Linked DNA regions of Homo sapiens. The protein of the gene in region 4 interacts with the protein of the main gene of each other region in a pairwise test. Each region holds a gene or a part of one and is shown on either strand. Other genes may lie near its edges. The genes, in order: AKAP9, RBM10, EIF4E2 and PRDM14.

The links.
Region 1: the proteins of PRDM14 (region 4) and AKAP9 interact in binary tests that used the Homo sapiens proteins (3 or more experiments, as listed by UniProt).
Region 2: the proteins of PRDM14 (region 4) and RBM10 interact in binary tests that used the Homo sapiens proteins (3 or more experiments, as listed by UniProt).
Region 3: the proteins of PRDM14 (region 4) and EIF4E2 interact in binary tests that used the Homo sapiens proteins (3 or more experiments, as listed by UniProt).

What each region holds. Positions count from the first base shown.
Region 1 is NC_000007.14:91,943,858-91,950,881, reverse strand, and holds part of AKAP9 (A-kinase anchor protein 9), read right to left. Parts: intron 1-7,024. UniProt on the Homo sapiens protein: Scaffolding protein that assembles several protein kinases and phosphatases on the centrosome and Golgi apparatus. Required to maintain the integrity of the Golgi apparatus. Required for microtubule nucleation at the cis-side of the Golgi apparatus.
Region 2 is NC_000023.11:47,176,217-47,183,240, forward strand, and holds part of RBM10 (RNA-binding protein 10), read left to right. Parts: intron 1-283; coding exon 284-370; intron 371-2,886; coding exon 2,887-2,947; intron 2,948-3,102; coding exon 3,103-3,279; intron 3,280-3,329; exon of another isoform or gene 3,330-3,565; intron 3,566-3,663; coding exon 3,664-3,824; intron 3,825-3,995; coding exon 3,996-4,093; intron 4,094-4,202; coding exon 4,203-4,290; intron 4,291-4,998; coding exon 4,999-5,185; intron 5,186-5,290; coding exon 5,291-5,430; intron 5,431-5,532; coding exon 5,533-5,650; intron 5,651-5,734; coding exon 5,735-5,826; intron 5,827-5,945; coding exon 5,946-6,110; intron 6,111-7,024. UniProt on the Homo sapiens protein: Binds to ssRNA containing the consensus sequence 5'-AGGUAA-3'. May be involved in post-transcriptional processing, most probably in mRNA splicing. Binds to RNA homopolymers, with a preference for poly(G) and poly(U) and little for poly(A).
Region 3 is NC_000002.12:232,560,677-232,567,700, forward strand, and holds part of EIF4E2 (eukaryotic translation initiation factor 4E type 2), read left to right. Parts: intron 1-3,570; coding exon 3,571-3,675; intron 3,676-6,152; coding exon 6,153-6,305; intron 6,306-6,401; coding exon 6,402-6,538; intron 6,539-7,024. UniProt on the Homo sapiens protein: Recognizes and binds the 7-methylguanosine-containing mRNA cap during an early step in the initiation. Acts as a repressor of translation initiation.
Region 4 is NC_000008.11:70,068,234-70,075,489, forward strand, and holds the start of PRDM14 (PR domain zinc finger protein 14), read right to left. Parts: upstream 3,020-7,256; 5' UTR 2,917-3,019; intron 1,652-2,916; 5' UTR 1,628-1,651; coding exon 928-1,627; intron 300-927; coding exon 246-299; intron 155-245; coding exon 1-154. UniProt on the Homo sapiens protein: Transcription factor that has both positive and negative roles on transcription. Required for the maintenance of embryonic stem cell identity and the reacquisition of pluripotency in somatic cells.

The DNA.
Region 1 (7,024 bases), on a different chromosome or scaffold from region 4:
ATAGAAAAGAGTTTCTGTAACTTTCAGCCAAAACTCATTATTTCATATATAAACTCCTAGTAGATATTTCCTAATGCAGTTTTAACATATTTTCTAATATCTTGCCATTTAGAAGAAGATCTACTAATTTATTTGGCTCTCAAGAAATGGAGTAGAGGATATAAACGGCGTAAGAATTAACTGAGATCTCTGCCCCATGCCCACTGCAATCCCCACAAGGTCTCCACACACAAAATTTGATTCATGATACATATGGAGAACTACTATTTTAGTTATAATTGATCCCTGTCACTATCTTCTCTGGGGAAACAACTAATAAGGCAATACTAACTTGAATAAAAGTGAGACCCTAGCCTGGACGTTGTGGCTCACGCCTGTAATCCCAGCACTTTGGGAGGCCGAGGCAGGCGGATCATGAGGTCAGGAGATTGAGACCATACTGGCTAACACAGTGAAACCCCGTCTCTACTAAAAATACAGAAAAATTAGCCGGGCTTGGCAGCGTGCACCTGTGGTCCCAGCTGCTGGGGAGGCTGAGGCAGGAGAATGGCGTGAACCCGGGAGGCAGAGCTTGCACTGAGCCGAGATAGTGCCACTGCACTCCAGCCTGGGTGACAGAGCAAGACTCTGTCTCAAAAAAAAAAAAAAAAAAAAGTGAGACCCTGGAGGAATAAATACAGCCTAACCACAGAGCCCACAATGAGCAATCCTAGTAAACAACAAGGAATTTTATAGTGTGTTCAGTACTAATAGGAGAGAGAGCCTAGATTTTATACCCTATTAGTTTTTCAGAGATCTGTAAATCAGAGAACCTATGAAATCAATCTTTACAGATTAGGACTTTGTATAGTAAAGTTGATTATAGTTCTGAATCATCAAAACAATAATCTTGGGGGCTTTAAGAAATTATTTCTTAAAAGGGGGAAAAACTCTTAGACTTTTACAGAGAAACTTTCACACCACACAAAAATCTCAGAGAACAGTAAACCACAATAAGAATCTTAACTCTGATGGTAACTGAAAACAAACACTACATTGTTAGTGAACAAGGAGGAAAAAGGAATTTTACATATTACAAAAGAATCTATAAATTTAAACAAAGAACCTAAGCAAAACTACTCCTGAAATAATGTTAAATTTTTGAATACTCTGAATATTGAACACTTTTGAATACTGTTAAACCCATGCAAAAATCAACCAAAGCTTTATGCAATGTACCTAGAAGGGCACTAAGTGTTGTAAGTTACAGTTTGGTGATGACTAAGACAAAAAATAAAAGGGGTGTCAATATGACAACAAAGACATCTCATACTAGTGAAGTAGCTACAGATCCCCCATGTTTAAAATGACAGGTCTTTTCATTTTTGAACACTAAGTTACTTTTTTCTCACAGTGTAAATGGACTGGCAATGATCAAGCCAAAAATCCAACAGGTGCCCCTTTAACCAACTGCATGCACTTGTAAAACAGCTGCTCATGGAATGGAATGACTCACTGGCCAACAAAGAAATCAAGCTTCAGCATCATGCTGTTATCAACTCACCAAGAACCTATCACTCAAAGGAAGCAACAATTTAAATTTTGGCAAAGCCCAAAAAGCCTAAAAATATATATATATGGAAGATAATCCCACTGGGGATACGTATTTCTACCCATTCCTCTCTGGTGCTTGAGTGCACACGTTCTCTCTCTCTCCACACATACGGAAAGGATATATATATATTTTATATACATATATAATTAATATTAGATAAAAGAAGTTGGTAACAACCCAATTAAAAAATGGGCAAGGGATATTAATAGACATTTCTCTAAAGAAGATCTACAAATGGGCTAGGCGCAGTGGCTCAGGCCTGTAATCCCAGCACTTTGGGAGGCCGAGGTGGGCAGATCACCTGAGGTCAGGAGTTCAAGACCAGCCTGGCCAACATGGTGAAATCCCATTTCTGCTAAAAATACAAAAAAATTAATCGGGCATGGTGGTGGATGCCTGTAATCACAGCTACTGGGGAGGCTGAGGCGGGCAGATCACCTGAGGTCAGGAGTTCAAGACCAGCCTGGCCAACATGGTGAAACCCCATCTCTGCTAAAAATACAAAAAAATTAATCGGGCATGGTGGTGGATGCCTGTAATCCCATCTACTAGGGAGGCTGAGGCAGGAGAATCACTTGAACCCAGGAGGTGGAGGTTGCAGTGAGCTGAGGTTGCGCCATTGCACTCAAGCCTGGGAGACAAGAGCAAAACTCCATCTCAAAAAAAAAAAAAAAAAAAAAAAGAAATCTACAAGTGGCCAAAAAGTGCATTAAAAGATGATACTCAATATCATTATTCATTAGGAAAATACAAACCAAAACCACAATTAGAAACCACTTAATACCCACAAGGATGAGTATTAAAAAAACAAAAAAACAAAACAAACAAACAAAAAAAACAGAAAACACAACTGTTAATGAGGTTATGGGAAAATTGGAATGTCCTATACATTGCTGATGGGAAGGTAAAATGGTACAGTCACTATGGAAACAGTTTGGCAGTTCCTCAAAAAGTTGAAATATAACTACCATATGACCTTGCTCAGTTCTACTACTAGGTATATACCCAAGAGAAATGAAAACAGGTACTCAAATACATCCATACAAATGTTCACAGCAGCACTATTCACAATAGCCAAAAGACAGAAACAACCCAAATGCCTATCATTGGACAAATTATGGTATATACATACAATGGAATATTATTCAGCCATAAAAAGGAATGAAGTACTGATATATGCAGCAAAATGGATGAACCTTGAAAACATACTAAGTGAAAGAAGCCAGACACAAAGGGTCACATATTATATGATTCCTTTCATATTAAATATCTACAACTGGTAAATCCAGAGAGTGCGTTGGTGATTGTTAGTGGCTAGAGGGAAGAAGCAATGAAGAATATCTGCTTAATGGGCACAGGGTTATATTTTGAGATGGAAAGATGTTTGGGAAGTAGACAGAAGCAGTAGTTGCATAAGATTGTGTTAAGCCACTGTGTTAAGTTCACTTAAAGATGGTTAATTTTGCTTATGAATTTCACCTCAATTAAAAAAAATTATAGCTTCTTTATATCTAGCACCTAGAGAACTCAAAAAGCTCCCAACCATTATTTCATTTATCCTTCAAAACACCTGTTGAGGTACACATCATAAGATTATTCCAACAGACAATAAGGCACAGAATTTGTGATCATTTAAATAAATGTTTGCGGCCGGGCGCGGTTGCTCACGCCTGTAATCCCAGCACTTTGGGAGGCCAAGGTGGACGGATCACAAGGTCAGGAGTTTGAGACCAGCCTGGCCAATATGGTGAAACCCTGTCTCTACTAAAAATAAAAACCTAGCCGGGTGTGGTGGTGGGCGCCTGTAGTCCCAGCTACTCGGGAGGCTGAGGCAGGAGAATAGCTAGAACCCAGGAGGTGGAGGTTGCAGTGAGCCGAGATCGTGCCACTGCACTCCAGCCTGGGTGACAGAGTGAGACTCCATCTCGGGGGGAAAAAAAAATGCTTGCTAAGTAAAAGTTCATAGCTGCAGTCGTAGGCATTCAAAAATGTTGGTTGAACAAATGAACACATAAATGTCTCCAAAGTCCTAGTGCCATTTCTACCAGACCAGATAGCAGTATTATAAATTCTCTTTCTCCCTCTCTCCAGCACACACACACACACACACACGCACACACACACACACACCCCAGACACCAAACCACTTTTATAAATAAGTTTTGAAAAATTCCGTAGCTTTTCCAAATTATAGTTTTTAAATGGATGTTAAGCAATTACATAAAGTGACTAATCTTAATTTTAGTGGAATCTTACTAAGAAATGAATATAAATAATGTCCCTTATTGTTTAGCAATTTACCATAACCTTTTCTAGCTATATTAGAAGAAATTCATTTACATTTCAATATTCAGTAGCCTATAATAGATATTTTGTAGACATAGTTTAGCTTTTACTATGAACCTTTTTATTTATAAAATAAGAGATGTTTTTGTTTGAAAAAATTTTTGTTCCATTCTTGTCATATTTCAATCACTTGGATGTATCCTACCTTTTTCACTTCCTCTTTCCATGAGCTATCATTCAACTTTCAGTTTCACTGACAGGGCATCACGTTCCTTCCTCCACATTCTCTCTCTAAACACCATGTTTTGCTTCATTCCGACAAAGCCTAAGCTGGGTGCAGTGGGTCACCCCTATAATCTCGGCACTTTGGGAGGTTAAGGCAGGAGGATTGCTTGAGCCCAGGAGTTCAAGACCAGCCTGGGCAACATGGTGAAATCCCATCTCTACAAAAAAATTTTAACAATTAGCCAGGTGTGGTGGTGCACATCTGTAGTCCCAGGTGCTCAGGAGGTTGAGGCAGGAGGATCACTTGAGCTCAGGAGGTCAAGGCAGGCTGCCACTCCAGCCTGGACAACACAGCGAGATCTCGTCTCAAAAAAAAAAAAAGCCTGAAGGTTATGAATTAGTTTTAAGTCACAGGCACTGCACTATTGCTGCAATAAATGTTGATGAAGCTATCAAACTGCTGCATCTACTCGGAATGCTAAGTAAGCTCTGCCACATCTAAGTATGAAAAACTAGAATGCTTAAAACAGGAAGGGAAAACACTTTCTTAGCTGTGGAACAAAGTATCTGAAATATGCAAAGAACAGTTTTACACCATAACCAGCTTTGTCTATCACAGTGGAAACAGTAACTGAAAAGTCCTGCTATCAATAATCAATATACAGCTTGCATGGAGCACCATCCTTTTTTTTGTACACAATTGGAACTACTCTTCACACTGAAAATGTTTGTTAAACAAAAGTCATGTAATTACAAATTACTGAATATAATAGACAGTAGTTTTTTATAATTATTCAGCAAATAATGCCCATTATATAAAATACTGAATAACTTTAAAAAGTATACCTAATGCAAATTTACATGAGTAATAATTTTATATTAAATATACAACTGTCCTCTATTTAATTCTGTTCACTTAAATTACAATACTTCCTTTACGTGCCATGAATAATTATACTTGGAAAAAAATGAAGTCATTTAAAATGGAGTTAAAATAGTTTGGTTCAACACAAGGACAACCTATGTAGTGCCATCCTCGTCAAAACACTGCAGAGGGAGCTAGCCCAGCTCTGAAAATATTTACTTAATACATAATGCAGTAATGTCTCACATCTCCCAGGGTCATGCTTCTTGCAACATCAATACTGAGGAAATAGCTGAGGACCCAACAGTAAACCAAAACAACCAACAAGCAGCAGAAAAACTAAACTGCCCTAAAGCCCACTGGGCAGGCTACACTGGCCTCTGTTTTTGTTTTGTTTTGTTTTTTGAGACAGAGTCTTGCTCTGTCACCCAGGCTGGAGTACAGTGGCACAACCTCGGTTCACTGCAACCTCCACCTCCTGGGTTCAAGTGATTCTCCTGCCTCCACCTCCCCAGTAGCTGGGATTAGTACCTGCCACCACGCCTGGCTAATTTTTTTGTATTTTTTAGTAGAGACGGGGTTTTGCCATGTTGGCCAGGCTGGTCTCAAACTCCTGACCTCAGATGATCCACCCACCTCAACCTCCTAAAGTGCTTGGATTACAGGTGTGAGCCACTGCGCCCCACCTGTTTTGTTTTTTATACTTTTTTCTTTTTAGAGATGGGGTCTCACTACATTGCCCAGGCTGATCTAGAACCTCTGGGCTCAAGCGATCCTCCCACCTCAGCCTCCCAGTGTTGGGATTACAGGAGTGAGCCATCACACCCCGCCTAAGGTCTTTGTTGTTGTTGTTTTTTCTTTTTACATAGTATTCTGTCAACCTCAGTTCTGGGTTCCTTAGTCGTAGCAAATCTAAAACAGCAAATTAGGAAAAGAGGCAGATGAGGAGTAAGAGCATGCCCATAGCAATACGAACTAACAGCAAGGAAAGAATAAGCACAACAAAAACAGAAAGGAAATCTATAAAATGTCTAACAATATAATCCCAACTATATTATACACTCTGCACTGAAATAGCAATTACAATTCCAGGCCTACGCTAAAATAGGAAACCTAGTTATTCTGTGCCTCATTTTCCTGTTCTGGATAATGGTCATACACTATAACATGTGTTTAATATAATGTATTTGATAAGCCTTTATGTTTTTTAAAAAATGGCATTTGAGGCTGAGTGCAGTGGCTCATGCCTGTAATCCCAGCACTTTGGGAGGTCGAGGCAGGCAGATCACTTAACGGCAGGAGTTCGAGACCAGCCTGGCCAACATGGTGAAACCCCATCTCTACTAAAAATACAAAAATTAGCCAGGCGTGGTGGTAAATGCCTGTAATCCCAGCTACTTGGGAGGCTGAGGCAGGAGAATCGCTTGAACCTGGGAGGTGGAGGCTGCAGTGAGCCAAGATCCTGCCACTGCACTCCAGCCTGGGAGACAGGCTGTCTCAAAAAAAAAAAAAATGGCATTTGAATATTCTTTTCTGGTCATAAAAGAGATACATTGTATCAAGAATTTGGAAAATACTAAAAGTATAAAGAAAATTAAAATTGCCTATAAGCCACCACCCAGAGATAGCCACGATTTACATCTTGGTGCTTTTTTTCAGGTGTCTTCATATTTAAATATGTACATATACCTTTTCCTGGTAACTTTTTTCTTTTTAACCTGGCATTATTTGTGGGCATTTTCCACACTCAAAAAGTCTTTGTAGAATTATTTTACATATCATAATTTATTAACCCATTATTACAGATTTGGGGTAGTATAAAACATTTTATACAGTATACTATATATTATACTGCATACATGACAAACTGTTTAAAAAGTGATCATTTATAAGGTTTAGATACAGAAAGGGAATTTTCCAATGGAACTGTTTATCAATAAATTACCCCCAAAAAGATTTGTAAGTTGTGGTTTGCAAAACTAGATTATCAAATACAATACTTAAGTCCAGTGAACAAATGAGACATTTGCAGAATGAAGTCTCAGATAAACTTT
Region 2 (7,024 bases), on a different chromosome or scaffold from region 4:
CCACTGTCCGGCAAGCGTCGGTCAGCCGAACACTGTGTGCCTGGTGGTGTGTGTTCACATGTGTGCGTGCGTGTGCCCGGCAGAGCAGCAAACAGCTGCGCCCGAGAGCTGTGGCGCTTTCCCTCCCTACCTCCCTTCTTCCCTCCATCCGCTCTCCGACCTCCCTCCGTTCCCTGTCCCTCATCCATCCAGCTGAAGGGCTCGCTCACTCTCTTCTCCTATGCTGAAACGGTGCGTGGGGCACTGCTGCCTGGACCTCACTGTGCTCTGCTTTTTCCCGCAGCACTCCCTCAACATCCTGGGCCAGAAGGTGTCGATGCACTACAGTGACCCCAAGCCCAAGATCAATGAGGACTGGCTGTGCAATAAGGTACAGGGGCGGTGGGCAGCAGTTGTCATGGACAGAGACAGCAACAGCAGTGGCGGCGATCTCTCCCTTCCTCTCCCGCTCTTTCTCCCTCCATCTCTCCCCCTCCCCCAATCTCTCCTCTCCCTCTGTCTCTCTCTCTCTCTCTCTCTCTCTCTCTCATTCTCTATCCCTTGCTAGCTCAGCTTGAGTAGTCACCATTCCTAGCCAGCCATATACAAATGTGTAGTGAGCGTTCACTTGGTGCAGGCTCTGTCCTCCTAAAATGCAGTCTTGCCTGGAGTTCCAGTAGACTTTAAGGAAATATATACGTGGATGATGAATTAGTGACAGTGTAGACTTGAAGTGGTGGTGTGGAGAATGTGGGCTTCAGAGCCAGACTGGCTGAAATGAGACTATCCCAGATCGGCCTTGATTTTGGCCAAGGTGCTTAGCCTCTCTTTGCCTCACTTTCCCCATCTCTAAAATGTGAATATTAATGACACCTCTCCCAAAAGGTGGTTGGGAGGATTCAGCTGTGTTAATGAGAGAGTAACACTCAGAACAGTGCCTGGCCCACATTTAACACAGTCGAATTGTTAACTGTAATCATGAAAGAAAAGCACAGAGCGTTCTGAGAGCCCATAGCAGGTAGCTCAAGCCTGAAGGCCACTCTGACCAGGCCAAGTCAAACCTGAAACTGGAGGCTGTGGTTTTGTAGTCACCTCTGTCTTCCCTGAGGGGAAGCTGAGGCTCAGAGAGGTGGAACCATGGGTGAACCTTTAGCTGTGCCCTGTGCCTTGCTCCTGATCACAGGGACTTGGATGCCACAGTGGCTTCAGGTCTGCCCTGGGGCCAGCATTGTGATTCCACAGTTTGTAGAGGCCCCAACCCTCTCCCCAGGAAGTACTCTGCCTAGTCAGGGAGAGTGGTGCATCTGTTTTAAAAAAAAAAGTCCCATCAGAGGATTGGTGCTTAACATTTCTGGAGAGATAAAGACAAAGTGACAGTGGAACTCCTTCCTGTGTTTCCAGATAGCCTCAAAACCAGGGAATTCTCTTTTTTTTTTTTTTGAGACAGGATCTGGCTCTGTCGCCCAGGCTGGAGTGCAGCAATCTGGGCTCACTGCAACCTCTGTCTCCAGCGCTCAAGCCATCAGCCTCCAGAGTAGCTGGGACCACAGGCGCATGCCACCACACCCACTAATTTTTGCCTTTTTATTTTTATTTTTTTTGGTAGAGACAGGGTTTCGTCATGTTTGCCAGGCTGGTCTTGAACTCCTGAGCTCAAGCAGTCCTCACGCCTCAGCCTCCCAAAGTGCTGGGATTACAGGCGTGAGCCACCACGCCCAGCCCAAAACCAGGGAATTCTCTTGAACTCCTTCCCCTCCCCTGCATCCTGTTGGCCACCAGGTCCTGTCACTTCCATCACAGAAACGCCACCTTCCCTCCCTCGCCATTCCCGCTGCTCATGCCAATCGTCACGCTCTCACCCACTCACTGTGGAGCCCTCTCTGGTATGCTGGCCTCTTGTCCTCTTTCTCCCACGCCCTCACCTGGAACATTCCTCAAAACCACCTCTGACTACCCACGCCTCTCCTCCTCTGCTTAACCAGCCCCAGCTCAGCTTAAGCATAAGATCCTCCATTACCTAACTGGCTTCCTTCCCCGGCCTTGGCTTTTGCTTCTCCCCTTACTCTCCCACACCAGTTTCGGAAAGTCCATTGTTCCCTCCGATAACAATCCCTCCCCAGCAAGGCTTAACAAAATGAAACTTCTGGGCATCCCAGGTCAAACCTCCCTGCTTCTGTGCAGGGACTGTCCCTGCCGAGTAAATGGCACCCCACCCCCAGCCCATTTCCCTCCCCGAGCCCCTGCTGGATGGTCCATGCAGACCGACCTGCCCCTCTTCATGCTGCATCTGCCCCTGTGCTATTAGGCCATGAGGGCAGAGACCATGTTCTGGCCATGTGCAGCAGGGCCTGGCCCAGGAGTGGTGCTTAGTACCTGAGTCTGGAACAGAGATGGAGTGTGGTAGAAGCTGGGTCTCCAGATGCTGGAACATTCAAGGAAAATTTCTCAAGCGTAGCAGGATCCAACCCAGTCCTAGAGCTAAGAGGAGGGGTGCGGGTCTGGCTACTGACTTCTAGGGCTGAAACACTGAAAGGTTTCTGAATAGAGGAGCAAGTTTCAGGGAGAGGAACCTAATAAAGGGATTGAATACCTGAGGCGGGGAACAGTCCTGGGAGTTGGTGGCCTTAAGAAGGCAGAGGAAGGAGAGGAGGGAGTTGTTGTACCAAATGGGGGAGTTGTTTATTCCTGAGCTGAGTGGGTTGGCACAGAGGACAAATGAGAGTCTGGAAAGGGAAGATGCACAGTACTGAGAACAACATCAGAAGGTTCAGAAGGCACCTGCCACCATTGCCTAGGGGCTTTCCTTCCTGGGGCACTGCGGGGTCCCTGGGAGATCTCTTCATCCAAGTTTGGAGGGTGCAGTGGGAAATCCCTGCTCCCTCTGACGGCCTGGCCTGTGCCTCACAGTGTGGCGTCCAGAACTTCAAACGCCGAGAGAAGTGCTTCAAATGTGGCGTGCCCAAGTCAGGTGAGGCCCACCTACCTCTCGTGCTCTCCAGGGCGGAGCGGTTGGGGAGAAGGGAAGGGTGAGGGGTCTGTGCTCAGGGCTTGGTATAGGGAGGAGGGTGACCAGTCGTGGAGCCTTCCCCTTATCACCAGCCTGTCTCCCACTGCCCCTGACAGAGGCAGAGCAGAAGCTGCCCCTCGGCACGAGGCTGGATCAGCAGACACTGCCACTGGGTGGCCGGGAGCTGAGCCAGGGCCTGCTTCCCCTGCCGCAGCCCTACCAGGCCCAGGGAGTCCTGGCCTCCCAAGCCCTGTCACAGGGCTCGGAGCCAAGCTCAGAGAACGCCAATGACAGTGAGTCAGTTGTTCCTTCTTCCTCTGTGCCCTAGGGTGTCGGGCTGGGCTCACCAAGACCAGAGAAATGGCAGTGAGCAGGACCTCATCCTCATGGAATCTCCACTTGGTGCGGGGATAGACATTTGATGTAGGGAGAACAGGGGGAGTGGCAACATCCCACCTGACTTTGGGGGTGTGTCGGGAAGGTTCTCAGCAGACAGGCAGCCAGGCTGGCACCTGGACCGCCAAGCAGAGTTGATCCTGGAGGAAGCAGTGAGGGAAGCGGCAGTTGCAAAGGCACGGAGTGAGTGGGGGCAGAGGAAAGGGAGCAGTGGGGGCATTGAAGGGCAGGGCTGGCAAGAGTGCCAGGGGTGTCCTCTAACATTGGGCCCCTTCCCACAGCCATCATTTTGCGCAACCTGAACCCACACAGCACCATGGATTCCATCCTGGGGGCCCTGGCACCCTACGCGGTGCTGTCCTCCTCCAACGTGCGCGTCATAAAGGACAAGCAGACCCAACTGAACCGCGGCTTTGCCTTCATCCAGCTCTCCACCATCGTGGTGAGGGCGGCACAGTTGGGGGCCGGGCAGCCAGGGTCCCGGCCCCCGGGGTGGAGACGAGGGTCCTTTTCCCCAGCCTCCCACCGCGGCTGCCAGCCTGGAAATCGGGCAATGGAGCCGGGGGCCTCCCCGGGCCTGACCCTTCTGTCCCTGCCTCCCCTCCTCCCACAGGAGGCAGCCCAGCTGCTGCAGATCCTGCAGGCCCTGCACCCACCACTCACTATCGACGGCAAGACCATCAATGTTGAGTTTGCCAAGGGTTCTAAGAGGTCAGGGCCCCACCTGTGTGCCTTCCCACCCTTCCCCTCCCCACCCTCCCACTCCCCCCTACCGCTTGGGGCCTCCTATCTCACTCCCAGTCTCTAACATCCTCCTCAGGGACATGGCCTCCAATGAAGGCAGTCGCATCAGTGCTGCCTCTGTGGCCAGCACTGCCATTGCTGCGGCCCAGTGGGCCATCTCACAGGTACTCAGACCCCTTGTGCCTCCCAGCGTCCTGAGACCTGGGCTTTCTCAACCCTCCTGCACCCTCTCTGAAGCAGGAAGGCTGGCTTGCTATCCATGGATGCAAAACCCTCTCCCAGTAGCTGGCATGGCTATTCTACCTTGCTCCTGGCTCTCTAGACCCCCTGGGACATTCCCCTTCATCATCACCGCAGCTTTCTTCCCAATTGCCTCCCATGCGCTCATGTACGACGCCATTGTGCCTGGCATTCTGTGCTGTTTGGTGGGGTTTTTATTGTCCTGAATAGGTATGATATACACATATCCTTATATGTAATATATACATATATGATATACACGTATCATATGTTCCTGAATAAAAATAACGTATAAGTGGTTGAGAGAAAATTGGGAGAAGAGAATAAAGAAGTAAGAAGATGGTGTCTTCCTTGGCCTGACACCCAACACACACGCCACACACAGCAGAATCAGCAGAATCAGCCCTGGAACATTTTGGCGTTCATCTGTTTTTCTGTCTTGTGTTTGCCACTGGCCTATTTGTTCTCTTGTGGCCAGGCAACCCTCGCTTTCCACTTGTCTTAAGGCTGCATGCTTTGTCTGTCAGGTAGAAATACTAGCCCCACGTGTGGGACAGATGCTTCTAGCAGGTTCCCCACCCCCCACCCCCACACCTTCCTGTTCTAATGAACCCCTCCCACCTGCCCTTCAGGCCTCCCAAGGTGGGGAGGGTACCTGGGCCACCTCCGAGGAGCCGCCGGTCGACTACAGCTACTACCAACAGGATGAGGGCTATGGCAACAGCCAGGGCACAGAGTCTTCCCTCTATGCCCATGGCTACCTCAAGGGCACCAAGGGCCCTGGCATCACTGGAACCAAAGGGGATCCCACTGGAGCAGGTGAGCCCCAGCATCTCTCTCTGCAGCTGTGGTGGGGGCCAGCAGGCATAAAGTCCCCGGCCCCATTATTCACAGGCATTGTCCCTGCCCTGTCCCTCCTTACAGGTCCCGAGGCCTCCCTAGAGCCTGGGGCCGACTCTGTGTCGATGCAGGCTTTCTCTCGCGCCCAGCCTGGTGCTGCTCCTGGCATCTACCAACAATCAGCCGAGGCGAGCAGTAGCCAGGGCACTGCTGCCAACAGCCAGGTGAGTGAGCCCTGTGGGTATGTATCCCGGGGAGGCAGGCAGGCGGCAGGGGTGGCATGGGCAGACACTGAGCCCTGTTCTCCTGTCTGGCCCCATGACCAGTCGTATACCATCATGTCACCCGCTGTGCTCAAATCTGAGCTCCAGAGCCCTACCCATCCTAGTTCTGCTCTCCCACCGGCTACCAGCCCCACTGCCCAGGAATCCTACAGCCAGTACCGTGAGTAGCCACAGCCTGTGGGTAGGGGTGGGGAGTTCTTAATAAAGCAGGGAATAGTGTGACCCCGTTCCCCTCACCCCCTAGCTGTTCCCGACGTCTCTACCTACCAGTACGATGAGACCTCCGGCTACTACTATGACCCCCAGACCGGCCTCTACTATGACCCCAACTCCCAGGTAATAGGGCAGCCCAGGGAGGGATGGGATCGGGTCAGGTCGCGTCAGGAACAGCTAGCCCTGCAGGTTCCCTTCACAAGGTCTTCCCTCACATCCCCTCTTCCCTCCTCCTCCCTCAGTATTACTACAATGCTCAGAGCCAGCAGTACCTGTACTGGGATGGGGAGAGGCGGACCTATGTTCCCGCCCTGGAGCAGTCGGCCGACGGACATAAGGAGACAGGGGCACCCTCGAAGGAGGGCAAAGAGAAGAAGGAGAAGCACAAGACCAAGACAGCTCAACAGGTGAACACCAGGGTCCAGCAGTCACTGGCTGGCTGTGTGGTGTCTTCCAGCAACGGCACTCTGTCAGCTCTTGCCCTCTCCTGCCAAGGGAGATGGCGGGCAGGTGTGGATGTGGGCAGTGACTGCTTAGCAGACCATGCTCTTGCCCCAGCTCTGCTCTTTGCTGAATGGCCTTGAGCCAGAGCAGTCTCCTCAGTGTGTGGCAGGGTTGCCCAACTCCAGGAGGTGGCTTGTGCCATCCGAGTGAGCCCTGTCAGGTGTCTTCTGTCCCATGGTGGGGACCCTCACATTCTGCTGGTGAATATACATGTATGCCAGAGAAATTCTCACAGGCCATAAGGGGGTGGGCAGGAAAAAAGCCCTGCAATGTTTTGTGGGAGTGGGCAGATGGAGGGCACCTCAGTGTCTCTCTGTGGAGAAAGGGTGTGACACTGTGAGCGTAGCGTTTACAAGCAAGCACTAAGTGTTACCTTAGCAACCTGATGAATTCTAAAAATGGTGCTGTGCTGGGGGGAACATGGAAATATAGAATGTGGCATTGTGTCATGCATATAAAGTTATACACAAATAAACATTCCTATGCATTTTTAAATGATAAAATGGAAATGCACAACAAATGTGACAGCGTGGGTGTATGTCAGGGGAAGAGGAGTGTCTTCATCCATTTGCTGCTCCATAACAATACCACAGACTGGGTAATTTATAAGGAAAAGAGATTGATTTGGCTCACAGTTCTGTAGGCAGGGAAGCCCAGTGGTGTTGGCATCTGGTGAGGGCCTTCTTGCCGCATCATAACATGGCAAAGGGCAAGAGAGCATGCATGAGAGCAAGAGAAAATTGGGCCAAACTCCCCCTTTTTATCTGGAACCCACTCAGTGATGGCATTAAATGGAGACTCAAAAGGTGGAGGGGGG
Region 3 (7,024 bases), on a different chromosome or scaffold from region 4:
GCCTACAAAATGGGAGAAAATATTGCAAATCATATCTAATACTTGTATCTAGAATACTCTTACAACTCAGTTATAATCTGCTTAATATGAAATCAACATCATTACTATGCTGAGCTGATAAAATTTCAGCCTAAAGCAAAGATCTTGTTTAGTTTGCCAGTGCTATCTTAGAATCAGCAAACTTAGGGGTTTTGTAATAATAAACTACCTTGTGCACTGGTTCATATTTGGTTCAATAAATGCTTGTTGAATGAATTCAAGGCTCTAGTAGGCTTCTAAAAGGAATGAAGGCACAGATCCTGTCCTTGGGGAAATAAGATGTGCCCAGGAATTTCTAATACAGGGAAGACAGTAAGTGATACTATGGGAAAGGCATTTAGAGTGCTCTTGGAGTTTGGAGGAAAGAAGGAATTGATTCCAGTTTGGGGAATACTGCCTTGGAAGAGATGGGTTTAAGATTGATTTTAAAGAATTTGGCCAGGCCTGGTAGCTCATGCCTGTAATCCCAGCACTTCGGGAGGCCAAGGTGGGAGGATCGCTTGAAGCCAGGAGTTCAAAACCAGCCTGGGCAACATAGTGAGATCTTATCTCAAAAAAAGATTTTTTTGGAGTAATTATGCATACTTCTTGCATTTTTATTTCCCTCTTGTGAAAAAAAAAAGCATATAAGAATTTACCCAAATTGTACGAGGAGGGTTTTTCTTTTGTTTCAGTGTATATGTTAAGGAGTGGTTTATCATCAGGACTATCTTGGGTTAAGGCTTCATCCATGCTCACTGGATGTGTGACAGTATTTAAAGTCTGTCATTTTGACTCTGTAGGTCTGGACCTGAAAAATAGAAATAAAGTCTGTTGTGTAATTCAGGTCACTAGGAAATGGCTCACAATATTAAATGCATCACAGATAAATAATTACATTATGAATCCTTTTATCAAATTGAAAGCAGTGTTTCCCAGTGATTCTTAGCCTAATCATTAACAACATTTAAAAGTTCTTGAAGTCAGAGTGACTAGGAAGGCATCATCTTGAAATGGAAAGAGCACTAGACTTGGTAATCAGAGCTCACCTATTCTGATGCTTGACCCTCTTGGTTAGAGCAACTCAGTCCTGAAACCTTTCTCAACTATAAAACAAGTTGCTGACATGATTTCTGAGGTCCTTTCGGCACCTCATATTCTGAGTCTGTGAATGCTTATTTTTTTTTTTGGTTTCAATTAGAACTGTCAAATCTTTTAAAGTTTAATAATATTTCTCAGGCCAGGCACAGTAGCTAATGCCTGTAGTCCCAGCACTCAGGGAGGCCAAGGAGGGAGGATCACTTGAATCCAGGACTTCAAGACCAGCCTGGCAACAGTGTTAGACTTCATCTCTACAAAAAAAGTAAAAAAATAGCTGGGCATGGTGGTGCCCACTTGTGGTCCCAGCTACTCAGGAGGCTGAGGCAGGAGGATTGCTTGAGCCTGGGAAGTCGAGGCTGCAGTGAGCCATGATCACACTGCTGCACTCCAGCCTGGGTAACAGAGCAAGACCCCATCTCAAATGATGAATGAATGAATGAATGATAGTCTCGAGCTGTTTAACTTCATCTCTCTTATGGTTTGCATATAAGATTGTGCAGTGGGGCTGGGCGCGGTGGCTCACGCCTGTAATCACAACACTTTGGAAGGCCAAGGCAGGTGGATCACCTGAGGTCAGGAGTTCGAGACCAGCCTGGCTAACATGGTGAATGGTGAAACCCCATCTACTAAAAATACAAAAATTAGCCAGGCGTGGTGGTGTGTGCCTGTAGTCCCAGCTACTCGGGAGGCTGAGGCAGGAGAATCACTTGAACCCAGAAGGCAGAGGTTGCAGTGAGCTGAGGCAGGCTGCACCATTGCACTCCAGCCTGGACAAAAAGAGCGAAACTCCATCTCAAAAAAACAAACAAAAAAAAGATTGTGCAGTGTAGTTGTAAGATTGGGGAGACCAAACTGTTAAAGCGATTATTGACTGGGGAACTGGAGATGGTTGACATACTTTGTCCTCACCAAGCCCCTTTCAGTTCCTTATTCACAATGAGCCACTAGTGGGTGTACTTGGTTCTAGTGGGTATATGTGGTTTTATTCAACTATGTTAGGGTGGATAAAGGTTTACATTATTGCCGATTGTATTCATATGACCATTTACTATTCCGAGTCACTACATGCAGCTAAGCTTAGCAGTTGCTGAGTATAAAGCACTGCCTTGAAGCCCTATAGATGGCGTTAGTTCTGACTTCTTTTTACCATGTAAGATGCATCACGTGTGCTTGTGCTAGAGAGGAACTAAAGGGACAGCCATTTCACGCAGTGTAAGGCTGATTTCTCCTTAGGTGCTCCCCATATCTAGAAGTATGACCTGAATCTTTGTCTACTCGATACCCATTGTCAGCTCCACAGTTGTGGTATCTTGCTGTATGTTGATTTAGAGCCTGCTCAGCAGTTTAGCAGATACCAGCTATTTCTCATTGGAATGTTCCGTGTTTTCTCTTTCCTCCTAAAGTGTGCCTCTTCACTGGCCAGTACTTACTACGTATCCTCTGTGAATAAGGAAATAATCTTTCCTATCAAGACACTAGTGAACCTGTAGTCCCAGCTACTTGGGAGGCTGAGATGGGAGGATCCCTTGACACCAGGAGTTAGAGGCTGTGATGAGCTATGATCATACTGCTGCGTAGACCCTGTCTCTTTTTTTTTTCTTTTTTTTTAAGGGGAGGGGGGGTGACACTAATGAGAAAAACAGGACTACTGTGATGAATACAAATAAGCATATACTTGATGGAAAAATATAAATCTAGTTTTCTCACGGGATTGTGAAGGAGCGGCAAGGAGAAACATAATTTTTCTAGCTAAGAAGAGGGCCTTAAACCCTAGCTATGAGAAGCTAAGTCCTGTATGATTTTGGATTGGCCTGGACTTAGCAACAGCACCATGATGTAGAGTGGTATGTGTGGTACATGTGGTTGATTCTATCACTTACGCTTAGTAACTAAACAGGTCTAAGAGGTATTTACATGTGGTTGATTCTATCACTTATGCTTACTAACTAAACAGGTCTAAGAGGTATTTCATTCAGCAAATGCTATATTTGCCAGTTAAACAATCTTTCATCGGTAAGTGATTTGGTTCTAAAAAATGCATTCAGGCTGAGGCTGTGTGACACTTACATACCTCAAGGCTAAAGAGTTTCCATTGTGCAAAAACCTGGTCCTCTTACTGCATGTGATGACTACCCTGCAGCTTGAGTGGGAGAGTGCGTATTAACATGGTTTCACCAACTAAAGCTCCTGGCTGAGGCTTGCATTTCTCACCAAAGATTTTATTCTTGAATTGCGAATGTTACATTTTTTATTTTGTCAAACTAGATGGTATGTTTTTCCTCTAATATGTCTTCCCTCACAACACCACACATGAAAATGAGTCCTCTGAAAAGGACAGCCTGTAGTATAGTGTCTTCCATGCTTATGTTCTTAACTAAATCTCAACCTTGGGATGCATTCAAAGAAAAGTAAAAGACACATGTTTTTTACTCTGGGGTCTTCTCTCTGCAGGTGGAGCAGTTCTGGAGGTTTTATAGCCACATGGTACGTCCTGGGGACCTGACAGGCCACAGTGACTTCCATCTCTTCAAAGAAGGAATTAAACCCATGTGGGAGGTAAGGACTAATGGCTTCTGACTGCTTTTTTGAGCAAGTTTGGGTTTTTTTGTTTTGTCTCTTAGCCCTGCCAAGGTTAAAAGTATTTTATTTTATTTTATTTTATTTTATTTTATTTGAGACGGAGTGTCGCTCTGTCACCCAGGCTGAGCGCAGTGGCGCGATCTCGGCTCACTGCAAGCTCCGCCTCCCAGGTTCACGCCATTCTCTTGCCTCAGCCTCCCTAGTAGCTGGGACTACAGGCGCCCACCACCGCGCCCGGCTAATTTTTTGTGTTTTTTAGTAGAGACGGAGTTTCACCGTGTTAGCCAGGATGGTCTCGATCTCCTGACCTCGTGATCCGCCCGCCTTGGACTCCCAAAATGCTGGGATTACAGGCGTGAGCCACCGTGCCCAGCTGGTTAAAAGTGTTTTAAAGTCTCTCAAAACTGCATCACTCTCCAGTATATCCTTGGAACCCGAGCCTCTAGAGAAATGCACTGATGCCATTTTTTGTCTGTGTGGGTTGGTGCTGGGTGTTTTTTAAAGACTGTTTTATGACTAAAATGGTATTAGAACATTAAAGGATTTTTGTTTTCAGTTACCTTTATCCTTATAGAACTTGTTTGTGCGTGTGTGTAATATTTTTACATAGTACACATATGATTAAAGTGGGTAAGAAAATAAGTTTAAAGGCAGGAACTGGAGACCTAGAACTTTGCAGAGCCAGTATTCGGCTGCGCCCTGGTGTAGTGCATCTTCTATTCTGGTGCCATGGCATTTTTCGAGAAGACAAATGTGGTCACATCCACGCCACCCATCTTATACAGCTCCTCATTGCTCACATGATCTTGCACCTCATTTACCTTTCAAGCCTCATCTCCCATCATCTCTAAATCTTCCCTTCCCTGCAGGTGGACCCTCCTGTCAGTTTATGCACAGACATGTTCTTCCCAGTGCCCGCAGTGCCCTTCAGCTGCTTTTCCTGACTCACTCCCGTTGACCTTAAGACCCACTTCTTGGCAGGGCATGGTGGCCCATGCCTGTAATCCCAGCACTTTGGGAGGTCGAGGTGGACAGATCACCTGAGGTCAGGAGTTTGAGGCCAGCCTGGCCAACATGGTGAAACCCCGTCTCTACTAAAAATACAAAAATTAGCCAGGTGTGGTGGCACGCGCCTGTAATCCCAGCTACTCGGGAGGCTGAGACAGGAGACTCACTTGAACCCAGGAGGTGGAGGTTGCACTGAGCCAAGATTGTGCCACTGCACTCCAGCCTGGGTGACAGAGCGAGACTCCATCTCAAAAAAAGAAAAGAAAAAAAAAGACCCACTTCTTGACTGTTTCCAACTATCTTGTTCTTCCTTAACATAGTGTGCATATCTGTTAACAGCAGCACTTATAATTATAGTATCATTGCTGTAATTAATATCCTTGGCTGTCTCTTCTACTGGACTGGATCTGAGTAGAGATTGGGGCTTCAGCCAGGCGCAGTGGCTCACTCCTGTAATCCCAGCACTTTGGGAATCCGAGGCAGACAGATCACGAGGTCAAGGGTTCGAGACCAGCCTGGCCAATATGGTGAAACCCTGTCTCTACTAAAAATACAATAATTAGCCGGGTGTGGTGGCATGTGCCTGTAGTCCCAGCTACCCAGGAGGCAGAGACAGGAGAATCGCTTGAACCCAAGAGGCAGAAGTGGCAGTGAGCCGATATCGCACCACTGCACTCCAGACTGGGTGACAGCGGGAGACTCCATCGCAAAAAAGAAAAAAAAAAAAACTAGATTGGGGCTTCATGTCTGTGTACTTGGTATGTAGTGACAGTCAGTACTTTTTTTTGTCGTCGTTGTTGTTTTGTTTTGTTTTGTTTTTTGAGACGGAGTCTTGCTGTGTTTCCCAGGCGGGAGTGCAGTGGCACGATCTCGGCTCCCTGCAAGCTCTGCCTCCCGAGTTCACGCCATTCTCCCGCCTCAGCCTCCCGAGTAGCTGGGACTACAGGCGCCCACCACCATGCCCGGCTAATTTTGTTTTTGTATTTTTAGTAGAGACGCGGTTTCACCGTGTCAGCCAGGATGGTCTCGATCTCCTCACCTCGTGATTCGCCCACCTCAGCCTTCCAAAGTGTTGGGATTACGGGCGTGAGCCACTGCGCCCAGCAGACATTCAGTACTTTTAGCAAGTAAACGGATGATCTGTGCTTGAAATATGACATCATTTCGTTTTGATTCCTAAAGTATTTCCAGTAAAGGGGATTATTTTTAAAAGGTCTGTTTAGCCATTTTAATAAATGGCTTATGCCAAGGATCCCAGCCTTGTTTTTCTTTTTTTCCCCATTTCTTCTCTCCCTAGTCCTACCATCAGTTTTTCTATAGAGTTGAATAATTGGAAAGTGATATGACTTCTTAGTGTTTAAGAGATTCTTGGCTTTTTACTGCCTTCATACAAAAAAAGGCTGTGAAACCATATTTTAACTTCAGTGCTTTCTGTCTTTTTACAGGATGATGCAAATAAAAATGGTGGCAAGTGGATTATTCGGCTGCGGAAGGGCTTGGCCTCCCGTTGCTGGGAGAATCTCATTTTGGCCATGCTGGGGGAACAGTTCATGGTTGGGGAGGAGATCTGTGGGGCTGTGGTGTCTGTCCGCTTTCAGGTAAGCCACCCATGAGCCAGGCTGGTTTCTTGTGTTGCCTTTGCTCTCCTCGCTGCCCCTGATTTGCTTTGATGATTCCTTCTGTTCCTCTGGTAGGAAGACATTATTTCAATATGGAATAAGACTGCCAGTGACCAAGCAACCACAGCCCGAATCCGGGACACACTTCGGCGAGTGCTTAACCTACCTCCCAACACCATTATGGAATACAAAACTCACACCGACAGCATCAAGTACGTGTTGGGGGGTTATGGGAGGACGTGTCCCTAAGCTTAGTATAAGTAGATCTGTAGTTGGGCCCAGAGGAATATGGCCGGACAGGAGACTTACTTGTGGAGAAGGGACAGACCAGGCCTTCCCTCTAGGGCTTCTGGCTACTTGCTGCAGTTCTTTGTCAGCGAGGCTCCCTGCCACCTATACTACCAGGTGCTTTGTAGCAGAGAGAGCCCATCTGCAGAAACCCAGTTGTACTACCTGGGCTTGCTTAATTTCTACAGGCTGTCTTGTCTTTCATATGCTAACCACTATCTTAAAATGAAAGACAAGTGCTTTTCTTTTTCTTGCTGTTTTTTAAGATAATTTCACCCTGCCCACCCTCACCCCACTTCTGCATGTCTTTTTAACTTGTTAGCTTCAGTCTATTTTCTTTGTCCTGGGATACTGACTACTTATCAGGAATGACTCCATTTCCTTGTGTATAGAGCTGACTCTTAGAAGAA
Region 4 (7,256 bases):
CACATCACAGAATTGTCTCCGTAGGTCTTCACTTCACTGGCATTGACCACTTTACCTTGAAAGGGCCCAAACCTGACTCCTTTGGCGATAAAACTACTGCAGAACACACCAAAATGTGGGACTTCACCAAACACCGTCTGCATGAGGCATAGACCTAGGGGAAAGCCGAGGCAGGAAAAGAGAATGAGGAGAGTTGACTCTGCATTAGTTCAGGGAAAGAAATCCATGCAAGGAGTCCTGCCTACCTTCTGGAAGTTGAAGGGAGTCTTTATCCAGAGTTTGAGGAAGAGAATCAGATCCTAGCAAAAGGCAGGTTAAAACAATTTTTCATTAAAAATGCATTATAAAGTGCTTTTATGAGGTGTTTCCCTCCTTAATTCCCTAAAGGTAACCATCATCCCAGTTTGATATTTATTTGTTGTTTCTATTTTTCCCTGCTCATTTTACATGGTCTGTTCATACACGATTTCACTGTAAACAATTCCATATACAATTTCTCATTTGAGACTCAGAACAGCCTCATGGAAGTTTATGTAATTAACCCCATTAGGCAAATTCAAGGAATTTGAGGATCAGAGGTAATGCCTGACTAAGGTCAGCGTAGCTAGCTGAGCTGGGACTGTTAGGTGTGAACTGCTGAAGGCTGTCATTGCATGTTAGCATAGAATCTGAACCTACCTGGGAGTTCGCTGCAGGAACCATTTCTCTCTTGGTCCTCAGCTCTCACTAAAACCAACCTTAGTCATGCAGTTAAGCAAGCAGGGCCTCAGAAGTGAGCCTAGAACAGCCCTGGCTCTCATGGAGGTACTTCCCCCTTCCCGCACTCTGCAGCCTCAGCTCCACCTGGAAGCGCCTCTTCCCGGACACTCCCGTTCCCGCCTGCATTCCCGTCCAATTCGACTCCCAAATGGTGTGAACTCCCTTTACCAGAGCTGTCTGGGGGGACCAGGAGGCCTGAAATCGCATGGTGCAGGCTGGCTGGGTGCTCCAGGCTGGGAGTGACCCCGTACAGAACGAAGTGCAGGTCCTCCTCCGTGAACTGGAACCGAGCAGGGGACTTCCCTTCTTGGTTGGAGGGTTTGGGACCATCCTCTGACTGCTTGCTGGGTGAGCAAGGTAATAACTGGGAGGTCCTCAGCCCCTCAGGTAACAGAGAAGCATCCGCAGGGGGCGGTGGAATTAAAGTGTCAGGTCCACAACACGGGCCACTCTCGTTGTCGCCACCAATGATTTGGTGGCCCAGATCTTCACTGCTGGCACCCGCGTACTCGTGGCTGCTGCTCAGGAAGGGCGGCACTTCCCTGGGGACGTGGGGAATTGGGTACCACGGTGGCAGCTTGCTGTACCAGGGCAGATCGTAGAGAGGCTCCCTCTGTAGGCCCAGACCCGGGCTCAGCAAGGGAGGCGCCATCCGGAAGGGGAAGGGGGGCATGGCGGGGGCAGCAGACGCTGCGGCCTCCAGCTGCCGGAAAGGTTGGAAGTCTTCCTCCACGGTGGCCAGGCTGTTTCTGTAGTGTCCATAGGACGGGAAAGGCGTGTAGTACGCGGCCAGGTTCTGCGGGCTGCTCTCCGGCGGGTAGCACACCTTGTCCTGAGGCACGGCCTCACTTGGCCGGGGTAGAGCCATCCCGGGACCGCACGCTCGGCGGCTCTGCAGAAAAGCGGGCGCCGCTGAGGACACCGCGCGGGAGCTTCCCGGGGTCCGACCCGCGCCTCCCCACCAGCCTCCTCCACCCCAGCCAGCCCCAGATCCAAGGGAACAGGATAAACGCCCCCAGTCCGATCCCGCCAGCCCGCTCCCACAATTAAGACAAAACGAAAAAACAGCAATAGAAGCAAACACAAAAAAGCCCCAAACGGAAATCTGCCGGGATCCTGCCCTACTCTAAATTCCGGGTTAGTGTTGCCTTCCCCTTCCCTCTCCAAGCACCCCTTCCCTAAGCCCGGCCGCCTTCCCACACCCGCTCTCCGCTTTCGGCCCCCAACCCGGTTCCTGCAAAACCCATTGAAGTTCCCTTTCCTTCCTTCTTCTCAGTCCTACAAAACTCGTTGGTAGGGTCTGTGGGAGCCGCGGGGCCCTGCCAACCTCGGGGCTGGGCCGGGAGCCGAGCGCAGGCGGTCGGAGGGCAATGGAGCAAGCGACAGCTCCAGGCGCTCCTGGGCCCTCGGCTGGGAGGGAAGAGCCGAGGACCCTGGGTCGCACCGCGCAGATGGAGACGCGCTCCCAGAGCCCCCGGGCAGGTCCAGGGACCCCGCGACCTGCTCTGGCCCAGCGGTGTGACCCCGCGGGTCCTGGCGGTCCTGACTGCCCGCAGGGGAGGGGCGCGCCACTTTTGGCTGCCCTAGGATGCGCCGCCTGAACCTCTTTTCCCTCGCGGGCAGCGTCCGCCACATTCCCCGGGTTCCTCGGAAACTCCAATCATTCTACCAGGACTATTGGGGCCTGGGGTAGCCCCTCGGGAGCCGCGTGGACGAGCCCTGGCCAGGTGGGAGCGAAGAGCCTCGGCGACTGCCAGTCCTCCCGCCCCCGCACCGCCGGGAAAGGATGGCGTTTTAATAGACAGGCAGCAAGTTCACCGAGGCTGAAGAATGAAGCCCCTTCAGGGCCGGCGGGTCTTGAGATCAATGAGCCCAATAAGAAAACCAAGCAGGGTCATGACTCAGAAATTAAAGAACACGGGGTCAGGAGAAGAGGTCAGCCACGACACAGGCAGCGGCCCGTCTCCTCCCGATCCTCCAAAGGCGCCCTTCTCCTAGCCTCCTCCGACCTCAGGGATCTGCAACTTGGGATTCAAAGCCCCCGAGAGGGCAGAACGACCATCCAAAACGAACTGCGCCAGCGAGTGCTGCCGCCCTCCCCAACGGCCCTGGAAGACCACCGCCCCGGGCCCCAGGCGCGTCCTGTCCCGTGCCTACCTCCGACACCACCTCCAAGAGCGCCACCGCGGAGCGGGCGCCTCCTGGACGCTGCGGGGCCACTCGGGCTCGGTAGGCCACTCGGGCTCGGTAGACTTCGGGCGGGCCCTGAGGGCTGAGCCAGGCTTAAGAGGGCGGGCGGGGCCGCGGGGCATCGACAGGTCGAGGGTAGGGAATTGACCCGGCCCACGCAGATCCCCGCGTCGTCTTCTCCCCGCCCACCGCAGCCATTGGCCGACTCTCGACTCGCCCTCTGTCCCCTGGGGTCGCTCACTTAACTCATCAGTTTTCCAAACCCTCCCTGGGACCCTAGTGGCGAGCACTCGCCGCTGGCCTTCTAGGGCAGGCAGTATTGCCGCTCCAGGCGTGCGGAGTCGGGGAGAAAAAAACCGAACACGTGTGCTACCCAGGGCCCCCAGATAAGCCCCTCCGCGCGCACACACACCCTGAACCGGAGTCCAGAAGGCCGGACTCGCGTCCCGGGGTCGAGCCCCTTACTCTCCGCTCCCAGTTCGGAAGATCCCAGCCTGCCCGAAGGCGGCGTCTGACCCGCTGGTGGACCTGGTGGGTGTCTGTTCCTGATACCTGGGGACGAGGCGGGAGCGCCTTGAGCGCTGGGAAGCTTCGCCTCGCGAGTCCCCGGCAGTGACACGTGGGAGCGTTGGGCCCGGCACCCCCGACGCTTCCGAGGTTTCGGGTGGTCGTTTTGCTCTCTCGGGGGCTTTTATTCCTTAAGTGGCTTTAAACGACCGAGGATGGGCCTCCCGCGCCGCCGCAGCTGTCACTTCCTTCGGGAAAGGCTAGCGACCTTGGACGCGCAGGCTCTGAAAACCAAGGTCCAGACCCATACCGAGCGCCCAAAGACCGCATTTGAATTCTCCTCGCCGGCCATTGAGGGAGAGAAAGGAACGCTTAGTTCCATTCACATTCACAGAAAGAAGCGCCGAGGGTGGGGGAAACGCAGTCTTGCCGGGTGAGCCGGGACAGGTTCCTCGCCTGCCCCCCGGCCGCTGCTTCCTCTTAGCTGAATGGGGAGCGACCCGCCCCGGGCGCGGCCTTCGGGGCTGAAGACTGAGGTGCAGCCTCACCCCCGGCCTGGCAGCGGCTTGGAAGAGAGAGGGAAAGGAGGAACATCTACCCGGCTAAGAGACGCCGCCAGAGTCCCTAAAGCTGGCGGGGGACGGAGGCCGGGGTCCCGGATCTTCAGAGCGCCCGCAGCCGGGCTTCTGGGCTCCTCGGTGCGGGGAACCTGACCCTGTAGCCTTCGCCAGGGCGCGGCGGGGCTGCAAGAAGGGAGGAAGGAGTGGGACTAGAGCCTTCGAGGGCGCGGGCGGCGTGCACTCAGCCTTGTCTCCCCGCGCGCCCTGCCGCCTGCTTGCCCCCTTTGCTGCACCGGGTGGCCCTGGTCCCCGCGCCCGCCCGCCCCCGACGCCTTCGCGTGGTTCCGCGCTGCCCGCGGCCAGCCCCGTTTCGCTTCGCAAGGAGCGTGTTGTTTTCTCAATCGAAATGGGATCAAGATCCCAGGGTTTCCTCGTCTCCTTGTTTTGAGGTGATAGGATCTTAGCCAATAGATCGAAAACGTGAAAAGTACCCGTCGCCTCTTGTCCCAAGTGCCTCTGTGGAAGGATCATTTACTTGGAAAAGCAGAATAAATTCTGTTGCCGTTTTCCTTCCGGAGGCGTGCTCACCCCAGAGCTCCTAGACCCACTGGCATTCGCTATACTTCCTCCTGGGCTTTACAGGTAGGATTTCAAGAATGATATGGGGGCACCTGGGTGATCTGTGGGTTGCAGGTCCTCAAGAGGCCGTTTTTTCGTGCACGGAAGTGTCGTAGCTTTATTTTAGCGGAAGCAATATCAAACCTTATCTTAGAGGTTTGTTTTGCAAAGAATCCAGAGTTTACTATATTTGACACTATTTTAAAATAACACTTGCTTGTTTTAAGAAGTTGGGAGAAATCGATAAAAGAAAAGTTGAAATCCATGCTTCCCATTTCTACTCTAGGAGATAATCCTGATCAACAGTTTGGTTTGCTCCCTACCCCCATTCCTTAAAAACAAACAAACAAACAAACAAACCAAAACCCACTATACTTTTAGATTGTGTAGGATTACGTAGGATTTTGTAAAAATAAAAATGGGATTATACTTCACTCGTTTCTGCAACGGCCTAGCTCCTACTAGTAATCATTCCCTATCAGTATAGTAGAATTAACCTTATTTTAGTATTATCATTATTATTTTGAGACAGGGTCTCACTTTGTCACCCAGGCTGGAGTACAGTGGCATGATCTTGGCTCATTGCAGCCTCTGCCTCCTGGGCTCAAGCTGTCCTCCCGTCTCACCACCCGGCCCCTTCCCCTCAACTAGCTGGGACTACAGTCATGCGCCACCAAGCCCGGCTAATTTTTGTATATTTTTGTGGAGACAGGTTTCACCATGTTGCCCAGGCTGATCTCAAACTACTGAACTCAAGGGATCCACCCACCTTGGCCTCCCAAATTGCTGGGATGGCAGACCTGAGCCACCACACCGGCAAATTTATTCTTTATAATGGTTGCGTGGTACAGAATTTCCATTTTATAGGTGTGCTCATAGTTTATCAGCCTCCTCTTGAAAGGTATTTAAGTTGTTGCCAGTTTTTCAATACTTCTGGCAGTGTACAGAAACACTGATACAGATACATAGTTGTGCTACTGTGCCTTGTAGAAGAAATATCCAGGTGTGAAGTTGCTGGATCAACAGGTATAAACACTGATCATTTAAACAAGTACTTCAAGACTGGGCGCAGTGGCTCACACCTGTAACCCCAGCACTTTGGGAGGTTTAAGTGGGTGGATCACTAGAGGTCAGGAGTTCAAGACCAGCCTGGCCAACATGGTGAAACCCCATCTCTACTAAAAATACGAACATTAGCCAAGCATGGTGGCACAAGCCTGTAATCCCAGTTACTCGGAGGGCTGAGGCAGGAGACTAGCTTGAATCCAGGAGGCAGAGGTTGCAGTGAGTCAAGATCACGCCACTGCACTCCAGCCTGGGTGACAGAGTGAGATTCTGCCTCAAAAAATACAAAATAAACAAGTACTTCAAACCATACCAATTTATACTTCCTCCAGCAGTGAGGGCAAGTGCCTATTTCTCCATGCTTCATCTAATACCGAATATTGCCATTCCTTTTTTTTTTTTTTGAGACAGGGTCTCACTCTGTCGCCCAGGCTACAGTGCACCTCAACTGCCCCAGCTCAAGCGATCCTCTCATCTCAGCCTGTCTAATTTTGTGTTTTTTGTAGAGACAGGGATTTCACCATGTTGCCCAGGCTGATGTCAAACTCCTAAGTTCAAGTGATCCACCTGCCTCAGCCTCCCAAAGTGCTGGGATTACAGACATGTGCCACCACGCCCGGCCTTAAATTTTTTTTTCTTTCATAGAGACAGGCCCTCACTCTGTCACTTAGTCTGGAATGCAGCAGCATGATTGCGGCTCACTACTGCCTCCAACTCCTGGGTTCAAGCAATTGTCCTGTGTCAGCCTCCCCAGGAGCTAGGACTACAGGTATGTGCCACCACACCCGCCTAACCTTTTAATTTTTGGTAGAGGCGGGGGTCTTGCTATATTGCCTAGGCTAGTCTCAAATTCCTTGTGTAAAGCCATCCTCCCACCTCAGCCTCCCAAAGTACTGGGATTACACGTGTGAGCTACCACACCTTGGGAGTATTGCCAATTCTTTAAAGCTGCCTGTCTTTCACATAAGAAGTAAAATCGTATTCTAATTGCCTTTTAGTCATTTACATAACAAAGTTTCTTTTGAATGCCTGCCTATTGATGAGCCAGTCAGCAAGCCAAGCATAGGGAATACAATTGTGAACAAAGCAGTCTTGATCCCCTTAAAAGCCTAATGAAGAAGGTCTGTATGTGTGTGAATACTTGATGAATGAGTCACTATGAACTGCAATAAGGAGGGAAGAAAGTGTAGTACAAGTAACGAGCCTCAGTCTAGGCTGGGAGTACAGGAGGGTTCTCCCAACCTATCAAATTGGAAAGATGTGTAGAAATGAACTTGGTGAAGGGGATGAGGACAAGTGGTACTCCAGGGCCACAGAACCCTTGGTGCTAAGGCCTTAAGCCTGGAGGAAGCTTGGCTGATTCACAGAACTGGTGCCAGGAGACAGCTTGAGGTTGGAATGTCAGCAGACACCAGGTCTTGCAGAGAACACTTGCTAAGATGTAAGTATCCTTACAGCTTTACTTCCAAGTATTCACCAAGAAGTAGTAAGAAGTCACTGCAGACATCAGCATACTTCATCACTAAAGAACTTCAGCATGCATATCATTAAATCAAA